3 linked regions of the Homo sapiens genome follow. The protein of the gene in region 3 interacts with the protein of the main gene of each other region in a pairwise test. Each region holds a gene or a part of one and is shown on either strand. Other genes may lie near its edges.

Evidence for each region.
Region 1: the proteins of UBE2K (region 3) and MAPDA interact in binary tests that used the Homo sapiens proteins (3 or more experiments, as listed by UniProt).
Region 2: the proteins of UBE2K (region 3) and TRIM43 interact in binary tests that used the Homo sapiens proteins (3 or more experiments, as listed by UniProt).

The regions. Positions count from the first base shown.
Region 1 is NC_000015.10:43,337,093-43,340,749, reverse strand, and holds part of MAPDA (N6-Methyl-AMP deaminase), read right to left. Parts: intron 486-3,657; coding exon 398-485; intron 1-397. UniProt on the Homo sapiens protein: Catalyzes the hydrolysis of the free cytosolic methylated adenosine nucleotide N(6)-methyl-AMP (N6-mAMP) to produce inositol monophosphate (IMP) and methylamine.
Region 2 is NC_000002.12:95,594,867-95,597,662, forward strand, and holds part of TRIM43 (tripartite motif-containing protein 43), read left to right. Parts: intron 1-183; coding exon 184-279; intron 280-1,335; coding exon 1,336-1,566; intron 1,567-2,462; coding exon 2,463-2,485; intron 2,486-2,796.
Region 3 is NC_000004.12:39,704,636-39,708,292, reverse strand, and holds part of UBE2K (ubiquitin-conjugating enzyme E2 K), read right to left. Parts: intron 1-3,657. UniProt on the Homo sapiens protein: Accepts ubiquitin from the E1 complex and catalyzes its covalent attachment to other proteins. In vitro, in the presence or in the absence of BRCA1-BARD1 E3 ubiquitin-protein ligase complex, catalyzes the synthesis of 'Lys-48'-linked polyubiquitin chains.

The sequences.
Region 1 (3,657 bases), on a different chromosome or scaffold from region 3:
AATGCCTGACTGGAATTTTACTACTTTTTACTTAAGAATAACTCACTCATTAATAATGTACATCAGGATGGGCACGGTGGCTCACACCTGTAATCCCAGCACTTTTAGAGGCTGAGGTGATTGTTGGGCCCAGGAGTTTGTGGTTACAGTGAGCTATGTTTGCACCACTGCACTCCAGCCTGGGCAAGACAGCAAGACCCTGTCTCTAAAACAAACAAAATGAACATCATTAATGTACATCAGAGAGAGGACTTGGACTGTTGACTAAAGGTTCAATGAAATACAGAACAACACAATAGTATAAAAGTTAGTGCTTCATATTCCCACTCACAAACATGTGAGTGATCAAAGCACATAGGAAAAGGACAGTACATTTGCTGAGAAGTATAAATTCTACCAGTAGCATTTTCTCTTCTGGGTGTGCTCCTTAGTTCCAGGTACTTGACGCCGTCATCTGCAAATTCTTTTATGACATCTTTTGTGACCTGATAATAAAGATAACGTACACAATATTGATAATGTTTGGGTAAGGGTCCCAATGAATGTGCCAAGTGCTACAGCTTTATTTTATTCATTAAATCTGATTTGCAAGTAATGTTGGAAGTTTCTCACGTGGTAGAGATTATCCACTTTGTCACATCCCTGATGGAGACTATGCAGGGCTGCAATATTTCCAATCACTCCCATCACCCCTCATTCCCACATTCAATCCCAATCTGCACATCAGCTACACCCTTTGCTTCTTTTCCCCCTTTTAAACATTTATTTCCTAGTATTTATAATAGCAGATTGATAAAATAGAGAAATGGTGCAAAACTAAAACCAGCTGGAACCATCTGTATGTGTAGACTGCTAGGAAATGCACATACAGAAATAAACAGCTAAAATGATTAGGTATTACTGATGTGCTATTTGAAGTCATGGCTTAAGGTTTTTATTCAAGTTATTTAGGAATAAGTTACATTTTTCAATAAATTCTGGCAGGGTTAAATTTTCTCGAGAAGTACTTAGGGCAAAGAAAGTAGGTGATAAATATGAGTAAAACTGTATCCAATTTAGTGCAAATCTCAATAATCCAAAAGTTCCTGAAGGATTTCCTGAAGGATGTTTTTCCTTTCTGCCTTCAATCCTAAAAAATCTAGAAGAAAAAAAGGCTAGGTTGGCGAAGCTGTGACAAACTGCCGTAATTAGTCCTTACAGTTGGTATCCTAATCTTAATCTGCTTTGACTACACACACACAAGCATGTGAGTGCAGTGTCCTGGCAAAGCAAGAGGGGCTGGCTGTTCATACATACAGTGCCTAACAGTATGGCACTACCTTGGTGAATTCATAGCAATCCAAGTTGTAGGCCTCTTCTTTTTTCTTTTTCCACTAAAGACAAAAATGAACTTATTATAATGTAAGTGGAATGGGTAGCTCAGTTTCATCAAGAGGTCTAAAGACCCAGATTCTGAGAATACACAGCCAAAGATAATACATCTGCATTCTAAATCACATGAAACTCCAGGACCAAGCAAGATACCACTGCTGCCTCCTCCAAGGAGCATGATACTGCAGCCTCCATGCCATCATGAATGGCATTGGCCCCACGGCACTGCTACTCCAGGAACTCCCTCTTGCTGTCACTGACACCATGAAATTGTGGCCTCACCTTTGTATTAATAGGTTGAGGAATCTGGATCTTGTCACTGCCCCAGAACAGAACAGACCCACACTCAGCTACCCCAGCTCACATGAGACTAATGCAGAAAGCTGTTTGACAACGAGGAATACGGTTGAAGTGAGGGTTTGAAATAGTAGTCCTTTTCAGTGACTACTATCCAAGGCTCCCTCTTTCTGAGTGGCTAGGTACCTGTAAAACCAAATGAACAATGAAAAACTAACAAGTATGGAGCAAGAACAAAGGGAGGAAGATTTATCTAGGCCACAGTGAAGCCTACAGAACCATCCCTAACCCACATCCAAGAACATTTCCCTGGGGTCTACATCTGTGTTTGCCAGATTTAGCCCTTTCTGTGATGTGCAGCAGGTAGTGCGGTAGGTACTGAGAACAGCTCTTTGGGCTTTCCTCTCCTATGCGCTGGACTGAGAATATCTATTCAAATTCTTTTTCCAGACAAAGTACATCACAATTAGTTAAGTTCCTACTTACTCAAACCTCTCTAAGACTGTATAAGCTTGAATGGGAAAGAGCATGAGCTCTGCAACCAGATAGTACTGCCACTTACTCTGTGTGTGTGATCTTAAGCAAGTTACACTTAACCTCTTTAAGCCTATTTTTTCATCTACAAAAAGGGAACAATAAAAATACCTACTTCTGAAAGTAGTCCTAAGAATAATGTCTGGTACATGTAATAACAAGTATCATTTTTTCAGCCACACTCCAATCCTCTCTTTGAGATTATACCCAGGTCACCTTGACTAGAGTTTTAAGTGATCTCCCTCACACTCAGTTCTACATTTACAATCTCTTAGTTTATCCTCATAGACGTTTCATTTATCATATGGGGCACCCCATTGTCACCCTCTGAACCACCTAGTAGCACTAGGTCAAATGCACAGAATCTTCTCACTTCATTTAATAAAGCTTTTCAACTTTCATTTTGAAATGAATGTAGCAACAAGCATGCCATTAATATACCCATAGAGTATTAAACTGTCAAAGTTTCAATTTAATCATTTTGCTCTATAACACTCATCAACAAAGTGAGACCAGGGCCCCTGTGGTGGATATTCTTAGCTATGTTCAATGGTATCTTTTGAGACGCTGCTTAGAGAATGCCCTTTTGGTTCCCTATAAATCCTTATGTGTGTGTCTAATGCAGAGCTTACCACACTATGTTGCAGTATCTGCTTATGGGTCTGTCTCTCCAACCTAATTATAAATTTCTCAGGGGCAGAAACTGTGTCAATCTCTCTCAGACTTTAGCACAGTGCCTGGAACATTGTGGGCACTCAGTCAACTTTTGTTGAATGAAACTATTAGAGTTACCTCTCCTCTAAAAGGTGCTTAATTTACTTACCACTTATCATGAAGATCAGTCTTTACCAAAGAGGAAAATTTTTGCTTGATCAGTCAAAAGTTACCTCTCCAGAAACAGGTTATACTTTCTTTGCATTTTTTTTCTACTGGTTAAGATCACTGACACAATTTTGCTTCTCTCCATTTAGAAAGAGAACATTTTAAAATGCCATCCTAGTCAGATCAATGATACAGAAGACAATCTTCCATGTCAGACTCTAGTATCATGGAGCTTCAGATAAGAGAACACAGTGGTATCCTTTGTGCCCTCAGAGGGAAAGCACAATTTCCCTAGGGATTAATCACTTACTCTCTAAGCTCTTCTTGAACTTCTTCCTTCTCTATAATGTCCACCCATACAGTAAGTCTCCTATGTAATACAGACAATGCCTTATTAAGGATATCCCCATCTGTGGTCTAATACTTCTCTTTTTTTTTTTTTTTTTTTTTGAGACGGAGTCTCGCTCTGTTGCCCAGGCTGGAGTGCGGTGGCGCGATCTCGGCTCTCCGCAAGCTCCACCTCCCGGGTTCACATCATTCTCCTACCTCAGCCTCCCGAGTAGCTGGGACTACAGGCACCCGCCACCATGCCCGGCTAATTTTTTTTTTTTTTGTATTTTTAGTAGAGACAGG
Region 2 (2,796 bases), on a different chromosome or scaffold from region 3:
GCTGTTCTACATTCTGAAACCTCAAACTGAAAAATATCAATTAAGGATGAGCAATGAAAAATTTTGTTTTTTTCTCCTCTCACTAATGTATTTATATATTATCCCTTGCCTGTGTATACCACTCAGATTGTGGAATCTTTGGCATTTGACTTTCTGTTGTTCAACCTTGTAATTCTTTTGCAGGAGAAACTCTTAAAGCAAATGAGGATTTTATGGAAAAAGATTCAAGAAAATCAGAGAAATCTATATGAGGAGGGAAGAACAGCCTTCCTCTGGAGGGTAAGTATGAGACCGTGAGTCCTCCTGACCAGCTTGAGACAGGCATGCTGACAACATTTATATTAGCAACTTGAGTTGAAATTCTTATGCCAGATTTTGTCATGTGTTTATTCATAGGCTGGAAAACAACCAGACTGTTCAACATAACGATTGTTCAGGTTTTCTGTAAATGCTTTTCAGATAAGTAAAAAATAAATATAAATTCTGAAGGGCAAGTATGTGCTTAAAATTAATAAGTATTTCAGACAGAGTTTTCTGTATAAAATTAATTATGAAATGTTGATTAAATAGTATATAATTGAGAAATAAAGGCATTTATTGGTGAATATGATATTGTCCAGGGGGAAGAAATCGGGTGGGAACAGTAATTTAAGAAATGTGCCTGTGCTGGTGAAATCTGATAGCAAAGGACCCACATGATGCCAGTCCGAGTAGGAGAAAATGCAACATGAGGAAAAGCTGAGGAGAAGGGATAAAAAATGACTGGGGCAGTGAGAGGATAAATATGTCATTATTGAGAGGAGAAACACAATGGAATGGGGATTAATGTTCTTAGAATGGCAGTGCAATACAGAGTCTATGGATTTGACAGAAGAAAGATAGGAGACAGAAAAGAGGTAGTCAGTTTGAGAGATGGGGGTTAAATTTTTTACTAAGATCCTTTTTGTGTGATGGCTTCTGATCCTGATTATAATATACTAAAAACATTTCTACTAAGAGTGATTGTTCAGGCTGTGAAGTACAGAGATTTGAAACAACAACCTAAGTGAATAACAAAGATTATGTGTATTATCCATGACAATGTAACAATCATAAATTTTAGTTGTTTTCTAATTGTATTTCCGATTTGATTTAAACATTTAAACCTAAAGGGCTTTTTTGCAGGTGTTTGGGAATTGATGAATTACATAAATTTTGAAGGAAGGTCTTGCTTAACTCATCATCCTGTTTGTAAAGGATGGAAAATAAAAGAAGGAATGAGGAGGATGAAGTTGTAGGCTCTGTGAGGTGGAAGTAGGCCTGGGTATATAACCTACAAAATTCATATCCCTACAGGGCAATGTGGTTTTACGGGCACAGATGATCAGGAATGAGTATAGGAAGCTGCATCCGGTTCTCCATAAGGAAGAAAAACAACATTTAGAGAGACTGAACAAGGAATACCAAGAGATTTTTCAGCAACTCCAGAGAAGTTGGGTCAAAATGGATCAAAAGAGTAAACACTTGAAAGAAATGTATCAGGAACTAATGGAAATGTGTCATAAACCAGATGTGGAGCTGCTCCAGGTAAGAATGGAGGATGCCCCTTGAGACACTTTGTGTTAGCTGACCTTTACATCTTTGCCTTCCATTGGGTACCAAAGACATTATTTCCTCATCTCCTGTACTGACGGTGAGAGTCATTCCCACCGGTTATAGAGATAAACTATAACTCCTACGCTAATCATGGAAATAAAGCTTTATGGAATTGTGCAACTAGATTTCCATACAACATTTTCTACCACAAGCTTCCTCCTCCAGCACATTTCATTAAAACTCTGGAAGAAAAAATTTCATGCTTGATTTGAGCCACATTACACTTTGGGGACTAGCCCTGAAAAAGACCACATTGTAGACAGCTGCAGCAATGCGCAGTCACTACTCACACCTTTCTCTCTCACTCAAATTTAGGGTCCTTAATTTATCAGAAATCCATATTGTCAATAGGTCTTACTGGTATAATTGTTAGAGATGAGAATACATTTTAAAAGAGTGGCAGTAATAGTATACGGTAATTCTAAAGTTTTGAAAACCTAAAGACCAGATAGGCAGAATAGCAACTTTTTTGTGTGTTTATTTTGAGACAGAGTCTTCTTCTGTCACCCAGACTGAAGTCCAATGGCCCAATCTCAGCTCACTGCAACTTCTGCCTCCTTGGTTCAAGCAATTCTCCTGCCTCAGCCTCCCTAGTAGCTGGGACTAAAGGCATGAACCACCACACCCCACTATTTGTGTGTGTGTGTGTATTTTTAGTAGAGACGGGGATTTGCCATGTTGTCCAGGCTAGTCTGGAACTCCTGACCTCAGGTGTTCCACCCACCTTGGCCTCCCAAAGTGCTGGGATTACAGGTGTGAACCACCTCACCCAACAAGAATAACAACTTTCTAAAGAAGTCATTTTTTTTTTCTCTCTCTCTCTACAGGATTTGGGAGACATCGTGGCAAGGTATGTTTTTGGCCGTCAGTGCAAACTGGAGCACAAGGCATGCTATGAAAAACATCAAGCTGTTTCCAACAAAGTGAAAACATAATTTACTAACACCATAATGTGTCAGTGTGATTGTGTGTGTATGTGTGTGTAGTCATGTGTTTATGTGGTATGATGAATGTCATCTATGCCTTTTATCAGACATTAATCTTTTCTTACTTTCCCAAGTGACTCAGGGGTTTATGTTTTGAAGAGTGCAATGCAGAGGTTGCTAGAATACAGTTGCCTCTTTTTGCGATTCAGAATCATAATTAGAGATAAACTATTTG
Region 3 (3,657 bases):
AAATGTGCTTCTTGAATAATTGTATCAATAATCTCTTTGTTCCATAGTTCCAATTCATGTGCCTAAAGAAAAGTTCATTTACTTAAGAATCTCGGCCAGGCGCGGTGGCTCACGCCTGCAATCCCAGCACTTCGGGAGGCCAAGGCTGGCAGATCACCTGAGTCCCGGAGTTCGAGACCAGCCTGACTGACCACCATGGAGAAACCCGGTCTCTACTAAAAATACAAAATTAGCTGAGCGTGGTGGTGCATGCCTGTAATCCCAGCTTCTCGGGAGACTGAGGCAGGAGAATCGCTTGAACCCGGGAGGCAGAGGTTGCAATGAGCTGAGATTGTGCCACTGCACTCCAGCCTGGGCAACAAGAGCAAAACTGTCTCAGAAAAAAAAAATTGCAATATTACCAGAATTCCTTTGGGACTGTCTCCTGAAATTTGAGGTCAGTCTTAACTTTCCTCTAGAACTCAGCTCAAGAAGGCTGGGTGAGGTGGCTCATGCCTATAATCCCAGCACTTTGGGAGGCTGAGGCAGGAGGACTGCTTGAAGCCAGGAGTTCAAGACCAACCTGGGCAACACAATGAGACCCCATCTCTACAAAAAATAAAAATTAGCCAGGTGTGGTGGCACACACCTGTAGTCCCAGCTACTCGGGAGGCTGAGGTGGAAGGCCTGCTAGAACCCAGGAGGTCAAGGCTGCAATGAGCTATGATTGTGCCCCTGGGCGACAGAGTGAGACCCCATCTCAAAAAAAAAAAAAAGGCACCTAGCTCAAGAACCTCCCTCATACAGTCATACAGGCCAGGCACGACGGCTCATGCCTGTAATCCCAGCACTTTGAGAAGCCAAGGCAGGCGGATCACCTGAGGTCTGAAGTTCGAGACCAGCCTGGCTAGAAACCCCATCTCTACTAAAAATAGGAAAATTAGCTGGGTATGGTGGCATGCGCCTGTAATCCCAGCTACTGGGTCAAGCAGGAGAACTGCCTGACCTGGGAAGCAGAAGCTGCAGTGAGCCAAGATCATGTCACCGCACTCCAGCCTGGGTGAGAGAGTGAGATTCCATCTCAAACAAAACAAAACAAAAAAACTCCAGGTGGGGTGGCTCACACATGTAAGCCCAGCACTTTGGGAGGCCAAGACAGCCAGATCACCTGAGGTCAGGAGTGTGAGACCAGCCTGGTCAACATGGTGAAATCCAGTCTCTACTAAAAATACAAAAAAAATTAGCCGGGTGTGGTGGCGCATGCCTGTAATTCCAGCCATTCTGGAGGCTGAGGCCTGAGAATCACTTGAAGCCAGGAGGCGGAGGCTGCAGTGAGCCGAGATAAAGCCACTGCACTCCAGGCTGGGTGACAGAGACTCTGACTCAAAACAAAACAAAAACAAAAAAGAACCTCCCTCATTCAAATACCCTCAGAATCCCATAGCATTTACACTTTGCCCCTCCCATTTTTATCTATCCTTTGTCCTGTATCTCCAACCAATTAAGCCTTTTGGGGCTGTGGTCAACATGTTCGGTAACTGTTAATAATGTATTCACTGGGAAATAAGAGTATATAGTCTTGGCTGGGCATTGTGGCTCACACTTGTAATCTTATCACTTTGGGAGACCAGCCTGGCCAACATCATAAAACCCTGTCTCTACTAACAATATAAAAAATTGGCTGGGCGGTGGGGCGCGCCTGTAATCCCAGCTACTTGGTAGGCTGAGGCAGGAGAACCGCTTGACCTGGGAGGTGGTGGCTGCAGTGAGCTTGGATCATGCTACTGGACTCCAGCCAGGGTGACACAGTGAGATTCCATCTGGGAAAAAAAAAAAAAAAAAGTCCAGGCATGCCAGGCATGGTGGCTCACCATTTAAGCCAAGCACTTTGGGAGGCCCAGGCAGGCAGATCATCTGAGGCCGCGAGTTTAAGACCAGCCTGGCCAATACAATGAAACCCTGTCTCTACTAAAACTACAAAAATTAGCTGGGTATTGTGGCCGGACAGGGTGGTTCACACCTGTAATCCCAGCACTTTGGGAGGCCAAGGCAGGCAGATCACGAGGTCAGGAGATCGAGACCATCCTGACTAACACGGTGAAACCCCGTCTCTACTAAAAAAAAAATACAAAAAATTAGCTGGGAGTGGTCGTGGACGCCTGTAGTCCCAGCTACTCAGGAGGCTGAGGCAGGAGAATGGCATGAACCTGAGAGGCGGAGCTTGCAGTGAGCTGAGATAGCGCCACTGCACTCCAGCCTAGGTGACAGAGCGAGACTCCGTCTCAAAAAAGAAAATTAGCTGGGCATGGTGGCGCATGCCTGTAATCCCGGGATCCCAGCCATTCCAGAGGCTGAGGTATTGGTTGAACCTGGGAGGCGGAGGTTGCAGTGAGCTGAGATCGCGCCACTGCACTCCAGCCTGGGTGACAAAGCGAGACTCCGTCTCAAAAAAAAAAATTAGCTGGGCGTGGTGGCGCATGCCTGTAATCCCGGGATCCCAGCCATTCCAGAGGCTGAGGTATTGGTTGAACCTGGGAGGCGGAGGTTGCAGTGAGCTGAGATGGAGCCACTGCACTCCAGGCTGGGTGATAGAGCCGAGACTCTGTCACAAAAACAAAACAAAACAACAACAAAAAGGAATCTCTCTCATGCAGATACCCTTTAGAATCCCATAGCATTTACTCTTTGCCCCCACCATTTTTATCTATCCTTTGTCTGCCCTGTATCTCTAACCAGTTAAGCCTTTTGGGGCTATAGTCAATATTTTCAATAACTGTCAATAATGTATTCACGGGAAATAAGAGTATATAGTCTTGGCTGGGCACGGTGGCTCACGCCTGTAATCCCAGCACTTTGGGAGGCCAAGGCAGTTGGATCACTTGAGGTCAGGGGTTCGAGACCAGCCTGGCCAACATGGTAAAACCCTGTCTCTACTAACAATACAAAATATTAGCTGGGCGTGGTGGGGTGCGCCTGTAATACCAGCTACTCAGGAGGCTGAGGCACGAGAGTCGCTTGAACCCGGGAGGCAGAGGCTGTGGTGAGTTGAGATCGTGCCACCATACTCCAGCCTGGACAACAGAGCAAGACTCTGTCTCCCAAAAAAAAAAAAAAAAAAACCCAGGTGCAGTGGCTCATGCCTGCAATCCCAGCACTTTGGGAGGCCGAGGCGGCAGATCACAAGGTCAGGAGCTCGAGACCAGCCTGGCCAATACGGTAAAAACCCGTCTCTACTAAAAATACAAAAACAAAAACAAAAAAAAACAAAAAAAAACATTAGCCATGCATGCTGGCACATGCCTGTAATCCCAGCTACTCAGGAGGCTGAGACAGGAGAATTGCTTGAACCCGGGAGGCGGAGGTTGCGGTGAGCCGAGATGGCGCATTGCACTCCAGCCTGGGCGACAGAGGGAGACTCCGTCTAAAAAAAAAAAAAAAAAAAAAGGTGTATAGTCTTTAAGAAGGGGTGACAGGCCAAGCATGGTGGCTCACGTCTGTAATCCCAGCACTTCAGGTGGCCAAGGCCGGAGGATCACTTCAGTCCAGGAGTTCGAGACCAGCCTGGGCAACATGGTGAAACCCCGTCTCTACAAAAAATTACATAAATTAGCTGGGCATGGTGGCAGACGCCTTTAGTCCCTGCTACTTGGAAGGCTGAGGTAGGAGGATCATCTAAGC